Linked DNA regions of Homo sapiens: regions 2, 3, 4 and 5 are each linked to region 1. Evidence: fine-mapped expression QTL. A gene starts in region 1. Each other region holds a variant in brackets. All regions are shown on one strand. Distances are from middle to middle. Region 1 holds the start of AOAH (acyloxyacyl hydrolase). Region 2 overlaps AOAH (acyloxyacyl hydrolase). Region 3 overlaps AOAH (acyloxyacyl hydrolase). Region 4 overlaps AOAH (acyloxyacyl hydrolase). Region 5 overlaps AOAH (acyloxyacyl hydrolase).

Region 1 (5,107 bases):
GGTTTTGGTAGATGGGAACTGAGGACTGCTGTACACAGTCCTGGGCAGCCAGGAGTAACAGGGCAGCATGGACCTGGGCCTTAGAGAGAGGAGAAAGTCTAAGACGAGACACGTGTTGGTGACAGTGCCAGCTTTTACAGGATCTCCCATCACCCACCTCTTTTTTTTTTTTTTTTTTTTCTGATTAAGGAACTTGCTGTGGATGAGGTGGTTGAGGCCAATGTGGTCAAAAAATATTCAGGAAGCATATTCATACTGAACAAGCAGACCACAGGTGCAACACTTGGGGATCACAAAGCCTTAGCCTTCCATGGCACAGGGGAAAGCAGTGGTTTGAATCAGAGCTGTTTGAGTGAAATCAGTAACAAAGTGCTTCAGGGAAGAAATCTCATTTTCAAGAGCAGATTTCGAGATGATTCAAAATTGGAACATCTGACAGTGGGGTCCTGCAGGAACATTCTCCAGGGCCTGACTAGTTGTTCTAAACCACAGGTAGGTCCAGGGCCTTTTGGCAAGCTGTGCAAAGATCCCAAGTCATTTGCACTCAGTACTTGATGAGCAAAGGCAGCCCTGTCAGGGGCAATGATACCAGCCAGTGTGAAGGACAACTGTGCAAATGGGAGGGTCCACTCCATCCTGGTGACGGAGAGGGATGTTTTGTTCAGTGGTCTGTGCACACGTGCACTTTGTTCCAGCTTCTGCTGGCGAAATCACTTTCTGATTTCTGCATTCTTCCTTTGATCATGCCCAGTAAGAACTCACCCTCCAAGCATGAAAAATCCTTCCATTACTGAAAACCTATGTGTCAGGTTTTACCATGATATATTCCTACGAAGTAGATAGTCTCACCTCCCTTTTCTAGCTGAGGACTGTCACCTCTGGAAACAGGAAGGGGCTTGCTCAATACTGCACAGCTAAGTCAGCGACTCCCACTGTGACCAGCCCCGAAGCCTGAGCACACTAGAGAGTTTCAGAGCCGACCATCCCTGGGATGGTTGTGAATGGCACTGCCTGGCCCACATACATGCGATGAAGGGCACAAAACTTGCATTTCCGGCATACCAAGAAATCCCTCTCACTCTAAGAGTTTCCAGACCTGCTCGCAGCTATACATTGAGACCAGGAGAGCCTCAAGAGGCCCAAAGCCTGTGTCAAATGCTCTTCCAGAAGCCCTCAGGAGAGTCCTCACCCATTTATGGATTAGACAAACTAGACCACACACTCCTGGAGTGCTGTAGCACAGCTGGAAGGTATTCAATAAATCCTCCCTTTTCCTGTCCTCACCATTTCCCATGTATGACATGATGGCCTACAACTACCATGGGCGTCTTGGAATTCTCTTGAAGCTGGTCTGGGGTGCAGGTTTCATCACACTCCTGCTAGAGTCATAGACAGATGCACTAAGCACTTACTTCTTGCCAGCCATGCTGCTTTGTTGTTTGGATACATCATGTATTCGAGTGCTTCCAGCAGCGCATTGGAGCGGATATTACCATTATCCCAATAGAAATGAGCTACTTGGGAGGCTGAGGTGGGAAGATCACTTGAACCCAGGAGGTCAACACTGCAGTGAGCTGTGATCACACCACTGCACTCCAGCCTGGATGAAAAAGCAAGGCCCTGTCTCAAAAAACAAACAAACAACAACAACAACAACAAAAACAAGACACTGAAGGGGGGAAAGTTACATCACTGGTCTAATATATTACTCAGAATAAACAGTAGACATGAGACGTAAGCATGAGCCTTTCTGTCTTCACAATCTGAGTTCCTAATCAATCAGTCCTTTATTTAGCCTCCCTTGGAAGTCTCTGGAACTTCTCTAGGCCTCACCCCTGTGGTGGTCCTAGTGACCCCAGAGCTCCCCTTAGTCACAGAGTGAAGAACTGAAGCAGCAGCACCTTAGAGTCAGAGGAAGTCACAGGCCCATGGACGCCTAACGATATCCTCAGTATTGGGCTGGAAGTGTAATTAGGGAAACACTCTGACTTGTGCTATCTCTGCAGCAGGTTTGGGAATTGTAGCCCCATCGGTGCTTGTAAGACTAATGACTGCACAAGAAATCTTCCAACCATAAAAACTGGTATTTCCTACATCCTGGAAAGGATGCTACTCTAAAACTTTGCCTGCTACTCCAAATGCTATTTTTTTTAATTGCTAACAATTTAGATAGCTTCTATAATATTTCAAAATTTGTAATAAGCTCCCTCAGAGCCTAAGCAGAGAGAAACAGAATCTCATGACCTCCTACACTTACCTAGACTGTGGTACTTTGGCCCTGTCCTCTTATCTTGACTGAGAATGGCATATGATTTTGTTTTATCTTATTTTAGAGAGAAACATTTAGATTATATGTCTTTTATCTATGATCTGGTTCCGATTTTTTTTTTCCCTCAGAAAGACAGTGTTCAGTTCTATTCTTCAGAGCAGAAAATCAGTCTCTTAACAAATCATCCACAAAATGCACTTCGAAATTCTGGAGAAAAAAAAGATGCATTGTGCACAGCCTAGCAACTGTGAATTGATTAATTCTAACCCATGTTTTTTCTCATTAGGTCTAAAATCCCACCATGCTAACTGCCCATTATTTTCTGTACTGTTTATTTTCTGCACACCAAATAAAAGGCCTTGACCCTTCAAGGAATAACCCAATTTCTCCAGAGGAAAGATATTATTTGACCAGAATATCCTTTTACAACAAAATAAGGATCACAACCTTACCATATAAAGCTGTTGAAAACAAGACTAAGTAAGTTCTGAATGTAACCAATTAGAATTTCTACAATATGTGGGTGCTGCTGATCAAATTGTTAAAGGGTTGTGTGCTTGTGGATTAGTTTTTTTTTTCTTTTTTCTTCTCAGTTTTGGCTTTAGTATCGTTTTGTTTTGTTTTGCAAGAATGAAAGGGGAAGGGCCTCCTAACCAACCCAACAGATCAGTTCCGGCAAGCCTCGAGGCTCACGGGGTTTATGCACACTAACTTCACTGAGCCAGGGAGCACGGAAGTTGTGCCACTGTGCAACTTGGGTTTTCTTTATCCTGCAGTCTTTACCTCAGCAGAACCGCACACCACAGACTCCCTCCAGCTCTTTGTGTGTGGCTCTCTCAGGGTCCAACAAGAGCAAGCTGTGGGTCTGTGAGTGTTTATGTGTGCTTTTATTCACTTCACACTTATTGAAAAGTGTGTATGTGAGAGGGTGGGGTGTGTGTGTCAAAGAGAGTGAGGAAGAGAAGGAGAGAGAGATCAATTGATTCTGCAGCCTCAGCTCCAGCATCCCTCAGTTGGGAGCTTCCAAAGCCGGGTGATCACTTGGGGTGCATAGCTCGGAGATGCAGTCCCCCTGGAAAATCCTTACGGTGGCGCCTCTATTCTTGCTCCTGTCTCTTCAGTCCTCGGCCTCTCCAGCCAACGATGACCAGTCCAGGCCCAGCCTCTCGAATGGGCACACCTGTGTAGGTATGCAAATAAATATTTTTGTATTTTCTATGTAGACATAACAATGGGATCCAGTACTTTGCTTGCGTAATAAATCACATATTTTATTAAATCAAGAATTGTAAGATTCCAGGTAAGGCACCAGTAACCTCACTGACACAGAGAAATGTGGAGTCTAAGAGTAGACATTGACACTACATACATCTATGTGAATAAAAAGCATACTAGTTTAAATTGGGCATAAAACTCTTCCACCTCATTGGCGATTGGAATTTTTTCTTCTTGTATAGGTAACTATTATTTCAGGCTATTTTAGTCTGAAATTTTTACTGCTTTTCATGGGCTTTGACCTCATATAAACACATCTGAGTTTGAATCACTGCCCTCCTCCTACCCTTCTCTCCCATTTCCTACTGGCTGTGGAAACCTGGAGCAATGTACTTAACCCTCTCCATGCTTCTGTGTCCTTATTGGTGAACTGAAGTGAGTGAGACCCATCTCATAGGGATACCATGGAAATTGTGACCATGCATGTAAATCTGTGGCATGTGCACACAGTAAGGACTCAACCATCTTAGCTTCCTTCCGTCTCTCAGAGAATCCAGATTTGGCGATCACCTGGAGACGCTGAGCGTTGATATGGCTTCTTGGCTCATCTGTTAATGAAGTGTTTTATTTCCAAGAGGTTTTTTTTGTTTGTTTTTTTTGGATGAGAGCAGGAAGTAAGGTAAGATCTTTGATATTCACATTGTAGCTCTCATAACATGGGAATTCTCATAATAGTGGTGGCATTTAGATGGTACAGTCCATGGAGCCACATAGACTCAGAACTCTGAGTAGTAAGTAATTGTTCAATGAGCAGACCTCAAAATACAATCCTAGCTTGAGAAGCCAGGAAAATAACTCTAGGATAAGTCTGATGGCTACATGCTGCAAATGGAAAATCTGGACACAGATTCTGACACTTAGGAATTGTTTCTGGAGACAATATGGAAATATATCTGAATTTGTCCTACTTCCTCAAAATCATGGCCTCAGGTCATTGTACATGTTAGGAGATGCATCTCTACTTCCAAAGTCCTTTTTTTTTTTTTTTTTTTTTTTTTTCTGAGATGGATTATCGCACTGTCACCTGGGCTGGAGTACAATGGTGCAGTCTCAGCTCACTGCAACCTCTGCCTCCCTGGTTCACACAATTCTCCTGCCTCAGCCTTCGGAGTAGCTGGGATTACAGATGCACACCACCACACCCAGCTAATTTTTTGTATTTTTAGTAGAGATGGGGTTTCCCTATGTTGGCCACACTGGTCTCGAACTCCTGACCTCGTGATCCGCCCCCCTTGGCTCCCAAAGTGCTGGGATTACAGGCATGAGCCACCGCGCCCAGCCTCCAAAGTCTTGTTTTAATTAAGACCCAGATTCCCCAAGACTATTTTCCAGAGACCTGAAGGCAGAGGTGTGTGGTCCTTTGAACCATGCCTGGGAGATCATCCTCCCCCAGTATTTGGTTTCCTTAAATAACTATTTGCCACCTTTTCATTTTTCTCAAAACAAAACCCTACTGCCCATCAAATGGAAATACACTTGAGAAAAGCTCAGATGAAATCAGTTTTACTTCTGGGCTCATTGCAAACTAAATGTTTGAGTTTGGGCAAGTTGTCAGGGCTGAGA
Region 2 (5,107 bases), 150 kb after region 1:
GAAAATGAAAAATCAAAGATGAGACAAAAAGGAGCCAAGAAAATGAGTTAAAATATATATAATTATAGCCTGATACTGGTGTCAAATTTTTCCGTAAGCTCTGTGTTTATTAGTATTAGATTCAAGGAACAGAGATTCAACATATATGAGTTTATTTCTCTCACACAGAAAGGTTTAGAAAATGTGCAGTCTGGAATTGATATGGGAGCTCAACTCCACCCAGTTCTCAGGGATCCAGGCTCCTTCCAGCTCACCCCTCTGCCTTCTCAACGTCAACCTTATTCCCATAGTTTAAGATGGCAGCTTTCCTATTCTGGGCAGGAGACTGGAGAAAGGGTACAAAGAAGGAACCAGAATCACCATTCAATCATTTCCTAAGAAGCGTTACCAGAAATTGCCACTGGATAGTTCTGATCCCATCTCATCTCACCCAGAACTTAGTGATGTGCCACTCCTAGCTGCAAGAGAAGCTGGAAAACGCAATCCTCATTCTGGACAGACATGGGTCTTGCTAAAAATTCTATAAATTCTATTGTAGCAAAAATTCTATTGTAGTGCATGAAGGGAGAATAAAGCTGAAGGACAATAATAGTGTCAACCACAGCTTCATAGCAACCAAAAAAAAAAAAAAAAAGAAAGGCAACATGATCAGGTTCAAAATAACAGAGTCGGTAAAGGTGAGCAATTGCTCAAGAAATGTACAGCAGCTCTTGGTAAAAAGCATTTGAAAGGGATGACTCTGGAGGTCTTTGTACAAAAGAAAAAGTTTTATGTCTTCAACAGTATTCTTACGACACCCATACAACTCAATTTCATAGAACTGCTTCTCATAACAACTGCCAATATTACATTCACAGTTCAGAGAAAACTTGTCAGCAGAGATTTGATTTTTTGAGTTCATTTTAACCATATTTTTTTAAAAGCGTGATGTAAACATGGTTTGTTTAAACTTCTTTATGTGAGTATCCTGACCTTAAATATATACATATATATTTGTTTCAGAATTAAAGAAAAATCTATTTACCTTCGCTTATGGAAAAGAAACCACTGTAATCACAGGGACTACCAGAATATTTCAAGAAATGGTACGTAACTTTCCATTTAAGCCTTCATCAATGTTCCTGTAATGATTGAGTTTATTTCATAAGTACCTCAAAAGCTGAGATTCAGATAACAAGGATCACAGAATAAAATGAACGGTCTCCCTTCCAATGCCATTGCCCTTTCTGAAAGAAGGGCCCTGTGCTTAAAGCCATTTACCCACAGCAAAGGAGAACAAAAACAAGCTGCAGTCAAGGGGTTGACCAAGAGAGCAGATCATTCACCCAACAGCAAAGTTCTAGCAAGGCCAAGGCACAGGATGTTTGAGGCTCAGGAGGCAAGACCTAAATGAGCATTAGCAGAACAAGAGCTGAGAAAAATTAAGGTCATCGCAAAAGCTCTGCCCTCTCTGATGGTGCAAAGTCTCCCACGTTTCTGCTGGGGTTGGAGTTTTCAGTTTCACCTGTGTGGGTTTCAATCTTCCACCTTGGACCTGGAGGCGGTCTATTGCCACAAGATTCTGATGAAACTTCTGATTGATAAGCCATGGCCTGGCTAATGCCTAATGAATTGCCAAGGAATGTTTTGTAACACCATAATGCAGAGATGGTAAACAGTGTATGTGTTGCCACTCTGTCTTCCTAAGCCTGGGAAAGATATTGCTAATCAGCCTTGGCACTCTTGTCTGCTATGCTCAGATTCTGCCTCAGCAGTTCTCGAAACACAGCACGTCTGACAATCATCATCAACAAATTAGGCTTGGCACATGAAGTTAAACCTATTTGCCATCCCTGTGCTATCTCTAATTAACAAAAGATGTTGAGGAATTTTCCAAGCAACAAGCGTTTAAACTAAGTATGTGACCTACAAATAATGTATTTCTTATAATAAATATTCTATACAGAATAAATGCTCTCCTCTTCTAAGAACAATATAGATTTTTTTTACTAATAAAATAATTGCTGCCATTAACTGAGCTCTTACCAAGTGCTAAGAACACTTTATGTTTATTTCTGTTAATCCTTTCAACAACAGACATTGTAAGGCAAGTATTATTAAATTTCTTCAGTACTAATACTATTGATTGTAATAGCTCTAGGGAGTGTTGAGGGAGGGAAAAGGAAGGAAAAATTACAATGTTCCCATTGATTGCAGCATTCAACTCAATACCAAATGCGTTAAAATATACTTCTCAGAATTGGGCATTAAAATAATATTCACACCGTAGCAGCTGGGGAAATGGAGGCATGGAGAAACCAAGACTCTCTTCCTCAGCCACACAGATAGTAAGTTACAGAGGAGACACTTCTACCCACGTTGTCTCACTCCACTCAGATACCAACAAAGATAATACAGTCATTGGGCTATGATCCCAGATGATCTGCAGAAAGAGATCGGCCTCATCCCTCTGCAAGTTGAACACTATCAATAGTTAATGGACAGTTACAGTCAAATCTGGCCATGTGACTCATCACAGATACAAAGTGAACATCAGGTGTGTGGCTGCACTTTCTTTTTCCTTTAGTGACATACTGAAACAGCCCCCCAACACTGTCAAATACCCTCTGTCAATGAAGATTATAAAAAACAAAGCACAAAAAAAAAA[T/AAT]CATCTGTGAGGAATATCATGCAGCCCTAGAAAATGATGGCTAAAAGTCAAATATATTTTTATTTGGAAAGACAAAACACTGCCGAAAGAAAAATCAGGATATAAAATTCAATCATACAGTTTAGTTTCTACCACATTTTTCAAAGAAAGGGAAAAAAAAGGTATACGTAGGAAAGATTGGTAGAAAATATAGAAAATCATTATGTTTGATAAATTACGAGTGATCGCTTTCATTTTTTTCCGCTTTTCTGTTTCCTGATGATTTTATTTGTATACAGAAATAACCTTTAAAAAACTCGACAGAAACTGAGTCTAGGAGTAGAACAGGGCTTGTCCAAGGTTCCATAGCCAAAGGTATGAGGTTAGGGTAAGACACTGAGTGATAGGATTCTGCCAGAAATGCAGGCTGCAGGCTGCTCTTTGTTACTTGTGACTCTAACCCAGCATTTCTCTTTCACAACACCCAGGTGTGCAAAGTCGACATCACTTTTCTACCCACAATAAATGTAGTGATCTTTCATAAAATCATAAAGACCAGAGTAAGATAATCCAAAAAGTATAACTAGGACACCTGATAGTAAATGGTTGTCCTTTTGCGATCTCCTGTCTTGACAACACTCCTTTAAAATTCAGATTGCAAAGATAAAAGGGGAGACAGGAGACAGGAAGAGAGCCTAATCGTGTCAAAATGTGCTCGAAGGCCGTGGCTTTTGTCAGACTTTTGTCTAATGAATAGATGCCGGGGAATAGGGGATATTTTCTTCCTTTTCTTTGAATTTGCAGTCCTTAGAAATGCATAAAATGTATACTTTGTCTAGTATTACTATCCTCGACTATTTTTCTAAGACTGTAATAGTAAAAAGATATTTTTTTAGTTTCTCAGTTACTCATTATTTAATGTTCTGGTTTTACTCTCCAGCCCCTCTTCCTATTTTCTCTTGTATTTCCTTGCTATGGACTTTCTTTTGATATTACGCAGCAATGTAACCTGACTACCCATGCTAAATTACTTCAATTACTCTCCAAGGTTTTTATTAGATATAGGAAAAGTCAGCTTTTCACTTTCTGCATATTTATGGGGCTACACTGATTTTTCAGAACCAGCAAGAGAGAAAGGGGAAAAAGGGAAGAGTTGAATAGAATAGTAAAGTGTTTCTTAAAAATTGGGTAGTAAGAATTAAAGAAACAGCTCCTATTTTCATCCTGATCCTTATGTAAGAGATCTCAAAAACGTCTATACATAACTCTGTCATGAACCCCAGTCAGTGATTATAACGCATTTTTTTATTTTTTTGAGACAGAGTCTCGCTCTGTCGCCCAGGCTGGAGTGCAGTGGTGCGATCTCAGCTCACTGCAACCTCCACCTCCTGGGTTCAAGCAATCCCCCTACCTCAGCCTCCCAAGTAGCTGGGATTACAGGCACATGCCACCACGCTCAGCTATTTTTTGTATTTTTAGTAGAGACAGGGTTTCACCATGTTGGCCAGACTGGTCTCAAACTCCTGACCTCTGGTGATCCACCAGCCTCGGCCTCCCAAAACGCTGGGGTTACAGGCGTGTGACTGTGCCTGACCCTATAACGCATTTTAAAATGGAGAATGGAGAAGTCATCTTTAATCCAGGGAATGATTCTCTGGTGCAGGGGTTAGGAATGGCAAGAGTGCTGCCAAATCTTTTTTGCAATCAACAGAGGAGGGGCTTGCAGTGGCTCTCAGAACTTCCTCGATACCAAAATGGCCTGAGTTGGGAGGCAGCCAGCACATGGAAGAGGGAAGGACCCAAGAACTGCAGAGCTGGCTGGCTCCTCTGGTCCTTCTCTAAGATGGAAAATAGGGCCCTGAAAACAGAGAGCAGAGCCCTTCCTCTCCTGATTGCCTCATATAATTGTCTCTTTTCCTTGGGGTATAAAGTAGACTGGTTTTGAATTTGGGTCCTGGAATTAGTGTGTGGCTTGGGCCAATCATTGAATGTCTCTTGCCTGTTTCTGCATCTGTAAAATGGGGATCATGGTTCATTGAGCACAGTTGCCAAAGGTGACCCTGGATCTCATTCAGGGTTGCCCAGACAACAAACCACCTTGAATGGGCCATCTTCCCCATCCTCCTGGGGGAGAGGCTGCACCCAAACTCAGTGGGATAAGGCAGTGCTGGAGATAGCTACCTTCTCATCTTTTGCAAACCCAGCTTTTCTCCATTAAAGCCAGTTATTTAAATTATGCCATGTGACATTTTGGAATTCATCACAAAACCTGGTGTGTGACTGACCAGATATGTCATACCTTGCACACAGGGATGGGAACGGTACATACCTGAGCTTCATGGGGCTGCTGAAGACTGAATGAGAAACACAGGGCTTCATAAATGTCCAGCATCAGGGTACCACTGACACAGTGTCGCTAATTCCACCTACCAACTGTATTATTATTTACTCAGTGGTTTTGAAAACCATTTGTTTTTTCTT
Region 3 (5,107 bases), 200 kb after region 1:
TACAAGAGGACTCTGCCTCATGTCTTATTCATCCAACTCTTCACAACTTTTTAGTAGGCTCTGTCTGAAGTCTTGATGAGGCTCAATTCCCATTGGCCTGCTGTTATTAGCATACCTGGGAATTTTTTAATAACTGTCTTATCTCAGAATGCTGTAATAAAATACCATGAACTGGGTGGCTTATAAACAACAAAAATTTATTTCTCACAGTTCCGGAGGCTAAAAGTTTAAAATCAGGATGCCAGCATGGTCAGGTTCTGGTGAGGGTCCCCTTCCGTGTTGCCGACTGCCAACTTCTCATCATATCCTCACATGGTTTAAAAAAAAAAAAGAGTGAGCGAGCCCTCTGGGGTGCATTTTATTTGATTTATTTATCTTTTAATTTACTTATTGTCGAGACAGAGTCTCACACTGTCTCCCGGGCTGAAGTGCAGTGGCGCAATCTTGGCTCACTACAATCTCTGCCTCCCATGTTCAGGCGATTCTCCTGCCTCAGCCTCTCGAGTAGCTGGGATTACAGGTGCCCACCACCACACCTGGCTAATTTTTTTTTGTTTTTTTTTTTTTTAGGTTTTCTTTTGTATTTTTAGTAGAGACGGGGTTTCACTATGTTGGCCAGGCTGGTCTCGAATGCCTGACCTTGTGATCAACCCTCCTAGGCCTCCCAAAGTGCTGGGATTACAGGTGTGAGCCACCGCACCTGGCTGGGTGTGAATTCATGGGCATGAATTCCATGATGGGGGCTCCATCTTCACGGAATAATTACCTATGCCATCATACTGCGGATTAGGGTTTCAACACAGGAATTTGAAAGGGACACAAACATTCAGTCCGTGCAACACCCTGTTGCGATTGTCTTTCATTCTTTCTTTTCTTTCTTCTGTTAGCATCTGTACAACATAAGGTGAAACCCAAATAAAAATAAAGGGAAAAGTGGGAAAAGGGACAAAACGTTAATCAAGAACTTTGGTGAAGCAAAAAGGAGCACAAGTAGAATGGAGATGATGTCATCTCTGAAGTCACGGAGGGGATGGGGAGGCTGACATTTCACCTGGCCCGGGCCTTTCTGCATCGTTGCTGATTTTTGTTTGAGAGACTCCTGTGGGACTGCAAGGAGAGATGGGACAAAGACCATAAAAGGACAAAGAGAACTGAGAGGGCTCAGTGGTGGTGATCCTGGCTCTCTGCATTTGAAGAAATCTTTCCAGATGGCTGGTTCTCCATTGATGGCAATTTGTTGGATGTTCAGATTGGGAATGGCAGGGGATGGGCTGGATAGCATTCATGAGCAGGCAGGGCCAGCATCGCAGCCAGCAGGGCAGTCTGGAACCCACAGGAGCTTCAGAGTGTCAAGTCCAGAGGGAAATGTGAGGCAGCTAGAATTGAACCTCAAGAAGAAGGTTGCATTCCAAGGACATGCCAAAAAAAAAAAAAAAAAAAACAGGCAAAACAGGCCAGGCAAACTGAAGACTGAGCCAGGCAAGCTTCCCCAAAACTGTGCCTTTACAAGACACTATGGCCAAGGGCAAGAAAGAAATTGTTGAAAGCTGCATGCTGGCTTGGCAGAACAAATAAACTTTCATGAGAGTGAGTGCTGTTTAAGCATCGATGCAGCTCTGAGCTTCCTATTAGAAGAGCAGGTACCTACCATTCCTTCAGATAGAAGTGCTATTTACCAGCACGCCACAACTTCTCCCTGGAGACTCTGTGTGGCGGACACCATATAACACAGTGAACAGTGTCCTCAATTTGAGTTTTCAAGAAATGCAGAGGCCACTTACCAATAGCTATTTCTTCCAACAGCCTCTAGTAAAACCCAGAAGCATAATATGATGCTGTGTCTCAGGGGCAGTCTTTCTGCCAGAGAATAAGCTAACAGGGGCTGGCGATTCAGTGTGTAGGACTCCAAACCATCAGTATGAATTTTTTTCCTGAGCTTTGAGAAGGGCAGCATTATCCTCAGCCCCTGGGGAATGGAGGTTGAGTAGTAAGTGGGGATGCCATGCTGGGATATTAGGACTAATTGTAAAAGCAGCCTTGTATTGACCCAGCCCTGGGAAGTCCAGCCCGTCTTGTCCAATCAAAGCCCCTGACAGAATTTCCGTCCTTCCTTTGGGATGAGAAGGGGAGAAACAGGTCACAGACCTATGTTCTTGAGTTTTCTGGGGAATGAAGAGTAAAGAACGGGAGGAATCTTAGTTGTGCCTGCCCCCCTCACTGGACGCTGGGCAAGTGAGGGCGTAGCTTTGCCGGGAGCAGCTGGCTCAGATGCTGCTCTCCGGAGGCTTCCTAGGGATTTGAAGTTTCCTTGAGGAGTTCTTACTGACTGTATGATGGAATGACGTAGAGTTAATTGTGCTGTTGCCTTGGAGCAACTGACATTCTTGGTCTCTCATCCCTGTTGAAGGACAGTTTCATTGCTTTTCATCATTCTGGGGCTCGTAATATTTTTTCTGCAGCCATACTCCCTCCAAATGTGGCGATGAGATAATTTTATGTAATTATATTCCTGACATACTGTATGATTTTTAAAGGCAAGTGCTTGACACATGCAGGCAGAGTCTGCAAATGGCAACCCATGAAAGGGGATGTTAACAAAATGTTGGATTTTTCCCTACTGTAATACCATCCTACTGCACCACCAAAAAATGACATGTACTGAAATAGATGTTGACTATTTTAGAGCTCACCTTTTCCTACTGCCCTCCCTGCTACACAAACCACATTCATCCAATGCTCTCACGTATTCCCTTCCTGAGTTAGAAAAAGCACACACACAGCGGGAAGATCATTTCTGTTCAGAAATCCCCCAGTGCAAGAGAGCAGCTCAGAGGCAGCCGTGGCTTGGTCAACATGGGCCCGGGAGGGCATGGGCAGTTCTCACGTCCTTGTCCTTGGATATTGGCCGTTGCTTGTGCAAGTGTGTCTGTAACCCTCTCGTTATGTGCCCTGCAGTCATACAGGAGTGGCAGAAGAGAGGC[G/T]GACAGCCCTGGCAGCTCATCGAGCCCGTGGATGGATTCCACCCCAACGAGGTAAGCACAGTCACATGGTGGCTGCAGAAGGCTATTTGATGGTTTGTTGGTTTTTAATTATGGTTACACATTCATGTGTTTATTTTTATCCTGTTTTGTTCCAGAAAGGATTTGAGGTAGTGTACATACATGTATAGGATAGAAGATTTAATAAAAACAAAGTGAAATTTGGGACAATAGGGAAATAAAGTAGAAATTATACCTGGATTCCTGATTTAATTTCTATAATTCATAAAATATGTGCAGGGCATTCCTGAGAAACTGCCAGAAGGGCAGCTCTGTGCGATGCTAAAAGGGGCAGTAAGCCATGGCTTCCATAATACAAGAAAAATAAATCAAGCACTCCAAAAAAAAAAAAAGGAAGAAAGAAAAGGAGGAAAATGACGAGGATTTTTTGGAAGTGAGACCCATGAGAAATTTATTCTATGGTCTTTCTAGAAAGGGTGCTGTATAGGAGGAGAACAATGTCCTTAGCAGTATCCTGCAGTAAGAGCTGTTTCTCATCAAGGATCCAAAGTACAGTTCTGTAAAGTAGCTCTCCTCTGGTCTCTTCACAAAGCAAGGGGAGCCAGAGGGTGGGACTCTGTCCCCTCCCGGCTCCACTCCCATCCCATTATCCTGGCTTCAACCAGAGAAGCTCCACTTTTATCTGTTGTATGTCCTGGACTTGCTCACGACATTTCTTTATTAAGAAGAAGAAGAAAAAGAAGTGGGGGAGTTGTTCTGCCACTTGTAAAATGTTGAAAGCTGCTCCTCTATGGGGAGGGATGGGCCATTTACTCTCAGGCAATACCACATCACTAGAGCCTTTCTGCTCCAGCCGTGGGGGAAGCATGGTGTGGCTACCAAAGGGTACAAACCTGAGGAGCATGCCTGGGGGATGCTCGCTTGCTGGCCACCAAGACCTAGGCCACAGGAGGGCTGATTGTCCCCTCAAGAGCCTGAATGACGGTAAACACAGCCCACCTTCCTCCAACTCTAGGCTCAGCCAGTGCTCACAGGCAGGGCTAAGAATCACCTCAAAAGGAACAAGAATAGAAGGATGCTCACTCCCCAACAAATGAGTAAAAGTGGCGTCCCACAAATGCTGAGCAAATTTTAAAGTAAGTATTAAATGCCCACCTCACGGATTTAAATAGCCACACACAAAAAATCAGAATAATGCCCTCAGAATTTCTAACCTTCCTGTGTATCAGTTGGATGAGTTGATCAAAGAAAATTATTGGCTAGATTCTGGTTAAATATCAGGGTCTGATCCCCCAAAAATGATGTCTTTGGTTTTAGAAGAGTTTGTGTATATCCCTACTTTCTATTTTTTTTTTTTTTTTTTCTCGAGACAGAGTTTCACTCTTGTTGCCCCGGCTGGAGTGCAATGGTGTGATCTCCGCTCACCGCAACCTCCGCTTCCTGGTTTCAAGTGATTCTCCTGCCTCAGCTTCCTGAGTAGCTGGGATTACAGGCATGCGCCACCACACCTGGCTAATTTTGTATTTTTAGTAGAGACGGGGCTTCTCCATGTTGGTCAGGCTGGTCTCGAACTCTCACCCTCAGGTGAGCTGCCCGCCTCAGCCTCCCAAAGTGCTGGGATTACAGGCGTGAGCCACTGCGCCCGGCCCCCTTCTTTCTAGCAGTTATTAGGTACTAGTTCTTATCATTCTCTGCACAGAATAGCATCTTACCCTTCTGATTCTGTAAACAATGGGTATATGAAAAGATGGCCATGTAAAGTATCAGGAACAAACTAAAAAGAGGAGGATCAAAGACAGCTTTGTTTTATCCCCCAGGATATATTTATCCCATCTATCAAATGACCATTCCGTCCCTGACTCTTAAAATGATCTTGGGGTTCAAAGTCTGTCAAATTGGGCCTCTATCTTGTACTTAAACAGTTTCACCTATATCTGATTATTGAAAACACAGTCAAAAGCTGAAAATCAATGTGTGCCATAATCTTATGCTATTCCTGCAAGACTTGTTCACATGCTGGTAGCCAGTGATAAAGTGGCCAAAAATGGATAGCCAGGCCTAAAGCCTGCCTATTTATCATGTATATTGAGCTGAAAAGTCCAGATTGG
Region 4 (5,107 bases), 130 kb after region 1:
TTGTGGGGAAAGGAACCACAATTAGATTCTCAAAAATGTCTGAGACCCCCAAGAAGGTCAGAGGGCACCACCTTAATGCCTTAAGGCCATAGCTTTGAACCCAGGGAAGGCATTTTTTTCTGAGGGATTAGGCATTATTTTTCAGATTAATTACTTTTCAGATGATTGACTTTCTGATGGCCTAAACTGCAAAATGGAGAAAATCTCAGAAAATGTAAGAATGGGAAGTTTAGTCTGCTGAAGCATCCCTCCCAAGTGTTTGAGATGCCAAATGTTCTGCATGTTTCACAAGAGCTGAGCGGAAGCCAGGTCAAGGGTGGTGCTGATCATTGTGACTTCCCTGATGAAGTTGAAGGTTAGAGACATCTGCCTTGAATACCAAAAGCCCTTAAAGCGAGAGATTGAGAGTGGGAAACAGACACACAGAGAGCAACACTCAGGCCATGAATTTTCTTACTACCTTTAGAAAATAAATGACCATTTTGATAATTGCTACTTTATTGTTTTCCTTAGAACTCTTTCATCAATCTACCAACAGCCCTTACCAACGAGCTTGACTGGCCCCAACTCTCTGGTGCTACAGGATTTCTGGACTCCACTGTTGGGTAAGTGTCTTTGTGCACCCTCAGACATTTCAATACCTCTGTGTAAGGAAAGAACAAGAGATGGGGGTTGCTACCAAGATGTTGAAATGCGAATTATTAGGAACTGCTTCTAGAACATGAATTTGAGTTCATCCACCATACAGTAGGATGTAATGCAAATTGTATTTTAGCAGCACTGGCAAGAAAAGCATATTCCTGCTATGGGCAGGGTGGGGGTGGAGTTCCATAGTTTACCTCTGATGGAAAATACTAAACACATCACTGAAATTTTCTGATTCAAGGAAAAACAAAGTTTACTTATTTGTTCTCAGAAATAAATTTGTAAAGATAATGGCCAAAGCTGATTGGCACTTCTCAAAGTCCTAGAATCATCCTGGCTTTAATGCCCCAGATTTGTAGGTAGAGACCAGGCCTGGTGAGTTTGAATGACACACAAACCCAATTCACTACATATGCCTGGGTGTTAAGGCCTGGGGTCTGCTTCCCAGGGCCCACACTTGGCAGGGACACCTGTGATGCTGGTGAAACTTGGCAAGTGTCCCTAACATGGTAGTAAACCACAGATATGAGTCTATGGCCATCCCACCCTGAACACACCAGATCTTGTCTGATCTCTGGAAGGTAAGCAGGGCCTGGTTAGTACTTGGATGGGAGAATGTCACAGATATGAGAGGCAATTTCTCTCCCAACATCTCCTAAACATTTATGACAGTTAATAGGCACAAGGAAGATGGCAAATGAATGGCTTCCATGTGTAAAAAAGAAGAAAGGGTAGAGCTTTGCTTTTAGGTCTAAAGACAGGACAGAACCAGCTAGGAAGCCCCTCTCTGACTCAGGCAAAAATGGCAGAAGGCTGGAAAGCACCATGAGATAAGCCATGAGAACTGTGAGGAGGGCAAGTGTGCATGGGGTGTGATTTACCCAAATCTGTAAGGAACAGGAATGCCCCCAAAGGACAGACATTAATCATTTTAACAAGCAATTATTCTGATGAACAAAGAACATTGTGTGCCATGAATAATTTATTTGATGATTTTTATTCATCTGCTTTAAAAATATTTCTTAAATACTTAACCACCTAATCAGGCACAGATGTTACAGGTGTCCATTTAAAGGTAGATAGGGCTTGTCCCATCTTTGTAGTCAATTGCAATTAAGGCAGATGAGACAAGTGAACAAATAATGGTAATGCAAGGAAGATATACTAATGACAGGTCTCCTACAGAGCCACGGGGCTCCGAGGAAAAAGAGTTCATGGAAGTGATCAACAGTCACTTCCTTTGGGTGGGTAACACATGGGAGACTGGGGTCATAAAAGGGGCATAGAAGAAACTAGGAAGGGAACTAACCTTCAGGGAAGCGTACTCATATTTACATAGAAATAATCTGCCAATATAGGGAAAGCCAAGGAGATGTGTTTTCCAGTGTAGTTATACCTTTTCAAACTTAATCATGTTATTTTAAAAAAGGCTAGTCCTTGTCATTAGTGTAAAAATACTAAAATACTTACTAATAGGGATAGTAAGAAGTAACCTTTGAGAAGTAACAAGTAACTATATGCCAAGCATTTACTGAGTGTTGTATAGATATTCTCTCATTTAACCTCCTTGTGAGGTAGTGGGTATTGTTCTCTGCATTTGCAGTTGAGAGATCCAAGGGCAAATAGACAGAATAAGAATCTTGACCAAGGTTGCCCAGCCAAGAGTGGTAGGGTCTGTTTTCATGGAACCTTGTGTCATATCATAACAAAGATATGTTCTTGCCTCTCAAACTTTGTGTTGTTTTTATTCTTTGTGTGGGAATATGGCTCACTCTAACCATTGTCCCTCTGTGTGAGAGCATAGCTATGGGATGGAGAAATGACTAAGAACCAAGAGAAGTCCTCCCCATGTAGAGGTGTGGCCTGCACTATTTCAGTGACCCATCATATGCCTCCTTAGGGTCCCAATAAGCACAGACATCTGGGACTTTCTGAGTCCTAGCCTCAGTCCCATCTTCCCTCTGCTACAGCCTCTGTTGTCTTTACCTGGAACACATCCAGAGATAACCCAGCCAAAGCAGGTTTATAGAAGAGAGAACCTTGGTCATCCCCCCAATTTCAACATCAGAAAATAAAAAAATATATATGTTTAAATGCCCTCCACCCAGTCTAGTCATTTCTCAATAAAAGTATCTGGAATTTTCTCTCAATCAAGGCTTTTATGACAATAACAAAAAGAATTAATTAGGTATGAACAATGAACACAGTTTACTGTACCTTTAATGAAAGCTTAAATTTTTACATATTGACTCTATAAATCCCAACTACCTTTTGGCCCCATGAAGTTGCCATAAAAGAAATACCGATCCGATATTTAAAATTAATTTCCAAGTAGTTTAAATCTTTACTGGAGTCACTCAAGGAATGAAAGAGGAATCCATTCACCATGCCCAGCAAACAGATAAAAACATGTTTCCTCATCTCTTTC[T/C]GCTTACAGCTCGCACACACCAGTAGTTGCTCTGTATTTCCTAAATCTAAACTTCCCCAAAACTTGACCCACACTTAGCTCCTTCTCCCAAACAGACTCTGTTCAGTCATTTTGAGTTTCTATTGGGGGATGAGAGGGAAAGCTCCCTTTTCCTTTCTGCATCTGTTCTGTCCTCCCACCAGGGGTTTACTCCCTTATCAATGTAAAATCCCACTAGCTCTTCAATCCTGCAGCAGTTTTTACCCATCATCCTGATCAGTGCCCAGCAGGCAGACAGGATCTTCCATCAAAGCATGGCAATGGGGTAAGGGGAAGAGGAAAAGTTGAGAGCCTTCAGACATGAATGGTTTCTAACTCTTATAAGCATTATGCAGAGAAATTCTGACACCATCTCACAAAGTAAGTGACCATCTAGGTGTGGCTTATATGAAAACCATCTCTATCCTGAGCTAGTCTTTATTGACCTAGTACCTTTTTATATTCGGTTCTCTATTACTGCTTACAAAAAACGCATAGTCTGCTTAAGCAACTTCCTTAGTGTTGACTCTAAGTCCTGTCCTTACCTGTTGTATTTCTAACGAGGCACACACCACAGCTGGTTGTTCACCTCCCCTGCAGGAACTTTTCTTTCTATGTGTTTGTGGGACCCCAAGCTCCCTAGCTGTTCCTCTCAGAATGCTCTTTTTGCCAGCTGTTTCTGTGTACTGTGCCTGTGTTTGCTGCCACTCAGCTGGAGTGGAGAAGAATATACCAACTCCTTTTAATGGAAAAGGAAATTCTCTGTTTGGAATCTGAGTTGCAATGGATTCCCCCATTAAGCAGAAACAGAGGCAGCATGACACTGCATCTGTGGGATCATAATTTGCTATGTCCCTCCCAGCAGTAGTTACAGCTAAAGTATCCATATACCATTGTATAAATTATATTCACAGATAATTTGTGCTAGGCCAATCTCCTTATTAAAGGAATAGAAAGTTATAAAGTATATAAAAATATCAAAGAGATTAGCATATGATGGAGGTCCTCATTTGTGGAATCAGGAAAATGAAAAGAATGTTGACCCAGAAGCAGCACTTCTGAGAGGTGTATACAGCTCCCATGGGCATTTTGGGCACATGCCCTTTGAATCCAAATGCTTATCCACAGAATTGGCGGATTTCTCTATTCAACTGGATCTCCAGAATGCGCTTCCTACCATCATGATCAGCCTTCTGCTATGGGTGTCAACAGCGTCCTTTGGAAAATGTGCCTTGTGAAAGCATCAGGAGAGGAAATGGCTCCTTCCCTTTCATTCTTTGTTTATGCTCTTTGTCCTCTCAAAATTTATTATCCCCTTCATAGATAACTTTAATTGAAATTATGTGCATGCATTAAATGACAAACATAACCCCTTAGTTTTACAAACCTTTAGTTCTTTTAGTTGAGTTGATGTTAACAAAAACTGTTTTCTTGACTCTTGGGCTTCAGAAAATTCAATAAGTGATATCCCTTAAAAAATATACTGGGATTTTTCTTCAGTGTGATTCAGGAAGAGATTGAGTAGGTCAAAAGCAGAAAAAAAAAATCTCTGTGGGGGTTAAGAGCTTGGCAATAGAGCAGTATAACTGTAAATAGGAAGAAAAAAGTATTTTTAAAAGATTAAAAATAGCTACTGGGCATCTGAGGTGAAAAGATTACTGGAGGCCAGGAGTTTGAGATCAGCTTGAGCAACATAGCAAGACCTCATCTCTAAAAAAATATTTTTTTTTAATTAGCCTGGCATGGTGGCATGTACTTGTAGTCCTTAGCTACTCAGGAGGCTGAGACGGGAAGATTGCTTGAGCCCAGGAGTTTGAGATTGCTGAGATTGCTGTGAGCTATGATCACGCCACTGTACTCCAGCCTGGGCAACAGAACAAGACCCTGTCTTTAAAAAAGTAAAAATAAAAAAGTAAAAAAAATTAAGATTAAAAATTGTACTTCATGTTCAGATCACTTTCCAAAGCAATTCATATAACAGGAAAATCCTACTTACATTAAAGAAACCAAAGATCT
Region 5 (5,107 bases), 180 kb after region 1:
AAGTGGGAGGATAGCTTGAGCCCAGGAGTTCAACCCTGCAGTGAGCTGTGATCATACCACTGCCCTCCAGCCTGGGTGATAGAGCGAGACCCTGTCTCTATTTAAAAAAAAAAAAAAGATTTCTCTTCAAGGGGATTGGATGGGAGCCCAACAATGTGATTGCAACTGGCTGGCATGAAGAAAAGGGCTAACCCTCTTACCTGGGTGTTTCAAAAACACAAATGCTAGCTGTGAGTGAGGTGTGAGCACTTGATCACTACAGTGATCTGGGCTTTAGCTATGGTTCCAGGAAGCTGGTTTTCTGCACAGGCTGATCAGTTTCTTCCTTGGAAGGGACACCTCTCTCTAGCACCAGCCAGGTGAAATCTGGCTGGCTTACCTGCCAGGGTAATGAAATGATCAGGCTTATTTTGCCTGATCAGACACAATTCATTAGGGCGGGACAGGCTTCAGAGCCACCTTCAGGAGTGAGGCTCTTCATCTGTTCCCAGCCCGGCCATTTGTTTCTGACATGTGTGAGAGCATGTCAGTGAGCACCAGTTTCTCTCTCATTATTTTCCCCAGTGTGGCCCCTGTGCCACAGGCTGGTTTTCACATCTTCTCTGTTAGCTGAGCACTCTCGATCTCTCACCTATGCATCTGAGTGTCTGGGGTGAGCTCGCTGGTGTGTGAGAAGGGGTGCTGGGACCCTGGAGTCGGCAGACAAATCCGGGGTGGCAGGTGCCTGGGACACCTGGGTTGAAAAGGGTTAGACACCTTCAGCTCAGCCCATTCGTCCTTTGGCAGACACCAGAGAGACCTAGGAGATAGTTCTCAACCACTAGGGTTCTTTGGTCTCCAGAATACTAACACAAAGTCTCCCCCAAACATCACCAGAGGGGAAAAAGTACACAGATCAAAATGGCATTGAAAAATTTTCAGGGGGCCGGGCGCAGTGGCTTATGCCTGTAATCCCAGCATTTTGGGAGGCTGAGGCAGGCAGATCACGAGGTCAAGAGATTGAGACCATCCTGGCCAACATGGTAAAACCCTGTCTCTACCAAAAATAGAAAAATTAGCTGGGTGTGGTGGTGCTCATCTGTAGTCCTAGCTACTTGGGAGGCTGGGGCAGGAGAATCACTTGAACCCGGGAGGCAGAGGTTGCAGTGAGCGAGATCGCACCACTGCACTCCAGCCTGGGCAACAGAGTGAGACTCCATCTCAAAAAAAAAAAAAAAAAAGAAAGAAAGAAAGAAAAAAGAAAAAGAAAAGAAAACTTTTCAGGGACAGAAGTCAAAAGCCACCTTCTATGGCATCTGGGAGGGGTGATCGTCCCATGAATCACATAGACTCCCTTGCCCTTACCTGAGCTAAGAGTTGGTTGATTTTGCTATGCAAATTAAAAGTAAATTATGTAGTTGTACAAGGTGGAACAAAGATAACTGGAGAATGTTCCATTAGCAACACCAAGGCTTATATTTTGATTTCACTTAGCAATTAGCCATGTTGATTATGCTTGCTTAATTTGTGGGTGCCCTTTCATAAATACAAATTAGCTCAGATTCTTCGTTTAGCATCAGGGCTGTGCCTCTAACCGAAAAAAAAAATTATTCAGTGTGGATTTGGGGAGACTTTGTCCATCTTAACTCATCTTGCCCTTATGTGGTTGGAGAACATTAGCTCAGCATAATTGCTTTGTGCCAAAGCGTGGCTGTATCAGCAGGAAAAAAAAAAGTGTGGCAAGGCAAAAGTGAATAGGCAGTATTTGCCAGCTTTACCAGTGCCAGAAGAAAGGATATAGACACCCAACTTGCCTTTCATTTCACCCTTGCTGTTACACTTCAAACACACAGTGAATATAGAACCTAGATACTTGGGGCAGGTTCTTCAGTGCTGCTTCTGTGCATATGGGAATCAAGTCAAAGCCCCTCCCCACGCTTCTGCTCTAGTAGGTAGGCAACCTAGTCGCAAATCGTCATAGCTGGTTTTT[A/G]TCAGGTAGGAAGATTTTTATTTTTAAAATAGTGTAATTTTTTCATGACAATGGAAAACATGAAATTAGCATGCAGTTCTATACCCTGAGGGTTTGTAAAATTAGACATCTTTTTCTCTCCCCCCTTAAGAGACTCTAGCGATCCATGACATAGTTTAGAAGCACATACACCAACCATAACTGCCACCCTACTGGCTACCCCCATGGCACCAAAAGTATTGTTGTAGTCAACAATACTTTAATACTTTTTAGCCATCTTTCTATATTAATACATACAAATTACTTCTTTTTTTTTATTCAGGTGAAATTCACATAATGTAAGACTAACCATTCTAAAGCAAAAATTCAGTGGCATTTCCAGTTCACAATGTTGTGCAACCAACGATATCTAGTTATTATATTCCTAATGGCTATATAGAGTTCTATTGCATGGGTGTACCATAATTTATGTATTTAGGCTTTTATCTTTTTCCAGTGGTACACTATACCAAGCAACATTACAATATTCGTATGTACATTTTTGCACATTGGTGGAAATGTTACTATAGGATAACTTCTTGAAAGTGAAATTCCAAGGTCAAAAGTTAAGCCAGCTTCAAATTTGGATACATTTTGAAAAATTGCCCTCCGAAAAGGCAGTGCCAATATTCATTTATGAGCTCCCTTAAAAATGAGAATTATGGATCCCTGGGGGCCCCTTTCTGCCCCCTCTTCCCATATCACTTATGCCCTGGGTCCAGCCTCTGAGTGATGGACTTATTTTATCTGGTTCACAATCTGTATTAAGTTCCCTGGAGCTGCCATAACAAAGTACCAAAACTGGATGACTCAAAACGCAGACATGTATTCCATCTCAGTTCTGGATGCTTAAAGTCCAAGATCAAGGTGTCCGTGGGGCCATGCTCCCTCTGAAAGCTCCAGGGAAAAATCCTTCCTTTTGTCTTCCCACTTCTGGTGGCTTCCAGCGATCCTCAGCACTCTTTGGCTTGTGGCAGCCATAACCCCAGTGTCTGCTTCTGTCTTCACATGGCCTTCCTCCTGGTGTATGTCTGTGTGTCCTCTCCTCTTCTTATAAGGATTCAGTCATTGAATTTAAGGCCCACACTAATCCAACATGACCTCATCTTAACTAATGACAACCATGAAGACCCTATTTTCAAGTAATGTCACATTTTTAGGGACACTATTTAACCCACTATCATTAGGGAAACTGGAATTTTAAGTACACAAAAGAGAAAGTAACACTGTAGCATTATTCCATTTAGGGTAAAGACAGGCAGTTAGAGTGTAAAGAGTAGATGAAAACTCTAGAAAATTCTGTATTCTACTCCCAAGTTAATGCAGGTTAGGATCCGAATCCAAATTTGTTGTGTTCCTGAAGGTGTGTGCAAAAGTCAATTGTACAAAGAAATGAACAATAATAAACTTATATTAATGCCAAAAATACTTTAGCACCCCTTGCCTTTTAAACATAGCTTTTTAAAATAATTTCAACTTGTATTTTAGATATGGGGGTACATGTGCCAGTTCATTGCATGGATATATTATTGTACGACGCTGAGGTTTGGAGTACAAATTACCTCATCACCCAGGTGGTGAGCATAGCACCCAAACATAACTTTAAATCAACCAATGAGTGCAATTTTAACATAACTTCAAATGATGTCTTGTAGTATTTTGTACATTCCTTACTTCTTTTCCAAACCAAATGAATATAAGTCAATCAGCTTAAATTCAATAAATGTCTGATTGAGGGTAAAGATTCGTCACTTTCAGCTCACTTAGGAGCTTCACCTTTGTCTGACATGCTTTGATTTTAGGCCTGTGTCTCTCATAACTACTTTCAGTACTTTCTTTTTTTATTTTACTAACTTTTATGAAATAAGAAGAGAAAATATAATTTAAAAATTCAAATACCCTCTATAGAGCACAAGCACTACTATATAAAGACAATAATGCGGGCTGGAATTGTTGTGAAATGCTGTTGCAGGGTATAGCCTGGAATAGAAATCCATCAGGAAATGCATGCAAGTCCAAATCCAGTGTAGAAATGGAAGGATAAAGAGCAAGATACAGTGTGGACGTATAATATAACTTAATCAGTAAGATTCTGTTTTCTAACTGTTATACATGTGAAAAGTTTTAAAGACCAAGTTATAGACCTCGAAGTGTCAAATAAATCATAAGTAATACCAGACCCCTTTCATTTCAAAAACTGTGTGTAAGTCAGGCCAGCGAGTTTATGCTACAGGAACAAAGGAACAAACAGCCCCTAAAATCTTAGTAGCATAAAGCAACAAATGTTTACGTCTCTCTCACACTACTTGTCCATCAGAGATCACCATGGGACTCTGTTCCAGGACTCAGATTGGTGAAGCAGCTATCTAGAACATTGCCTATACCCATGCAAAGAAAAGGAGCATTCTAGAAGGTGTCACATCACCAAATATGACACATGTCACTTCAGCTCACCACTCATTGGTTAGAACTAGTCACATAGTCCACTCAACCGCAAGGGAGTCAGTAAGTACAGCCTATGTGTCAGAAAGGTGGAAATCCAGGAATATTTTGCAAATAGCTCCAATGACCACCACACTGTGTGTGTGTGTGTGCGTATGTGTGTGTGATGTATCTTGTATTTGCGTGCAACTTGCATGCATCTATCCTTACAATCAACCAAGATATTTTCTGTTTATTCCACCAACAGGAAGAGTGACCCAGTCCCAGCCATGACCACTCCTGAGAAACTCTACTCCAACGTCATGCAGACTCTGAAGCATCTAAATTCCCACCTGCCCAATGGCAGCCATGTTATTTTGTATGGCTTACCAGATGGAACCTTTCTCTGGGATAATTTGCACAACAGATATCATCCTCTCGGTATCAGTTTGAAGATTCTTTTACTCTTTAATAACATCAATGTATATACAGTTCAATGTATATATGGTTCAAACCATATAGAAATGTGCCTAAAATGCCATCATGGAACATGGGTCAGGGTTGATAAAGGCAAGAGCCCCTAGGTGCAGTATCTAAAGGTCATTATCCAGAGGTGAGCCGAATCAGATCCAAAGGCAGAAAGGGCAGAAGTAATTCATGAAGAATTGGGACACATTGAAAGGTAAGTGCTCAAACCAG

The links.
Region 2: its variant is fine-mapped to the expression of AOAH in whole blood (INTERVAL, PIP 0.95).
Region 3: its variant is fine-mapped to the expression of AOAH in whole blood (TOPMed, PIP above 0.99).
Region 4: its variant is fine-mapped to the expression of AOAH in whole blood (TOPMed, PIP above 0.99).
Region 5: its variant is fine-mapped to the expression of AOAH in whole blood (TOPMed, PIP 0.99).

Annotation. Positions count from the first base shown.
Region 1 is chr7:36,722,372-36,727,478 of GRCh38, reverse strand. AOAH (acyloxyacyl hydrolase) reads left to right here and starts at 2,985. Exons shown (of 21, transcript NM_001637.4): 1 at 2,985-3,457. The coding sequence starts at 3,331.
Region 2 is chr7:36,572,552-36,577,658 of GRCh38, reverse strand. AOAH (acyloxyacyl hydrolase) reads left to right here. Exons shown (of 21, transcript NM_001637.4): 13 at 1,003-1,085. Among named protein-coding and RNA genes, the nearest start is that of AOAH-IT1, 25 kb to the left of the region's middle. The variant T/AAT (reference allele first, on the strand shown) is at 2,648.
Region 3 is chr7:36,519,964-36,525,070 of GRCh38, reverse strand. AOAH (acyloxyacyl hydrolase) reads left to right here. Exons shown (of 21, transcript NM_001637.4): 20 at 2,956-3,032. Among named protein-coding and RNA genes, the nearest start is that of AOAH-IT1, 78 kb to the left of the region's middle. The variant G/T (reference allele first, on the strand shown) is at 2,982.
Region 4 is chr7:36,589,837-36,594,943 of GRCh38, reverse strand. It overlaps AOAH (acyloxyacyl hydrolase), which reads left to right. Exons shown (of 21, transcript NM_001637.4): 12 at 514-605. Among named protein-coding and RNA genes, the nearest start is that of AOAH-IT1, 7.7 kb to the left of the region's middle. The variant T/C (reference allele first, on the strand shown) is at 3,074.
Region 5 is chr7:36,540,061-36,545,167 of GRCh38, reverse strand. AOAH (acyloxyacyl hydrolase) reads left to right here. Exons shown (of 21, transcript NM_001637.4): 16 at 4,677-4,849. Among named protein-coding and RNA genes, the nearest start is that of AOAH-IT1, 58 kb to the left of the region's middle. The variant A/G (reference allele first, on the strand shown) is at 1,970.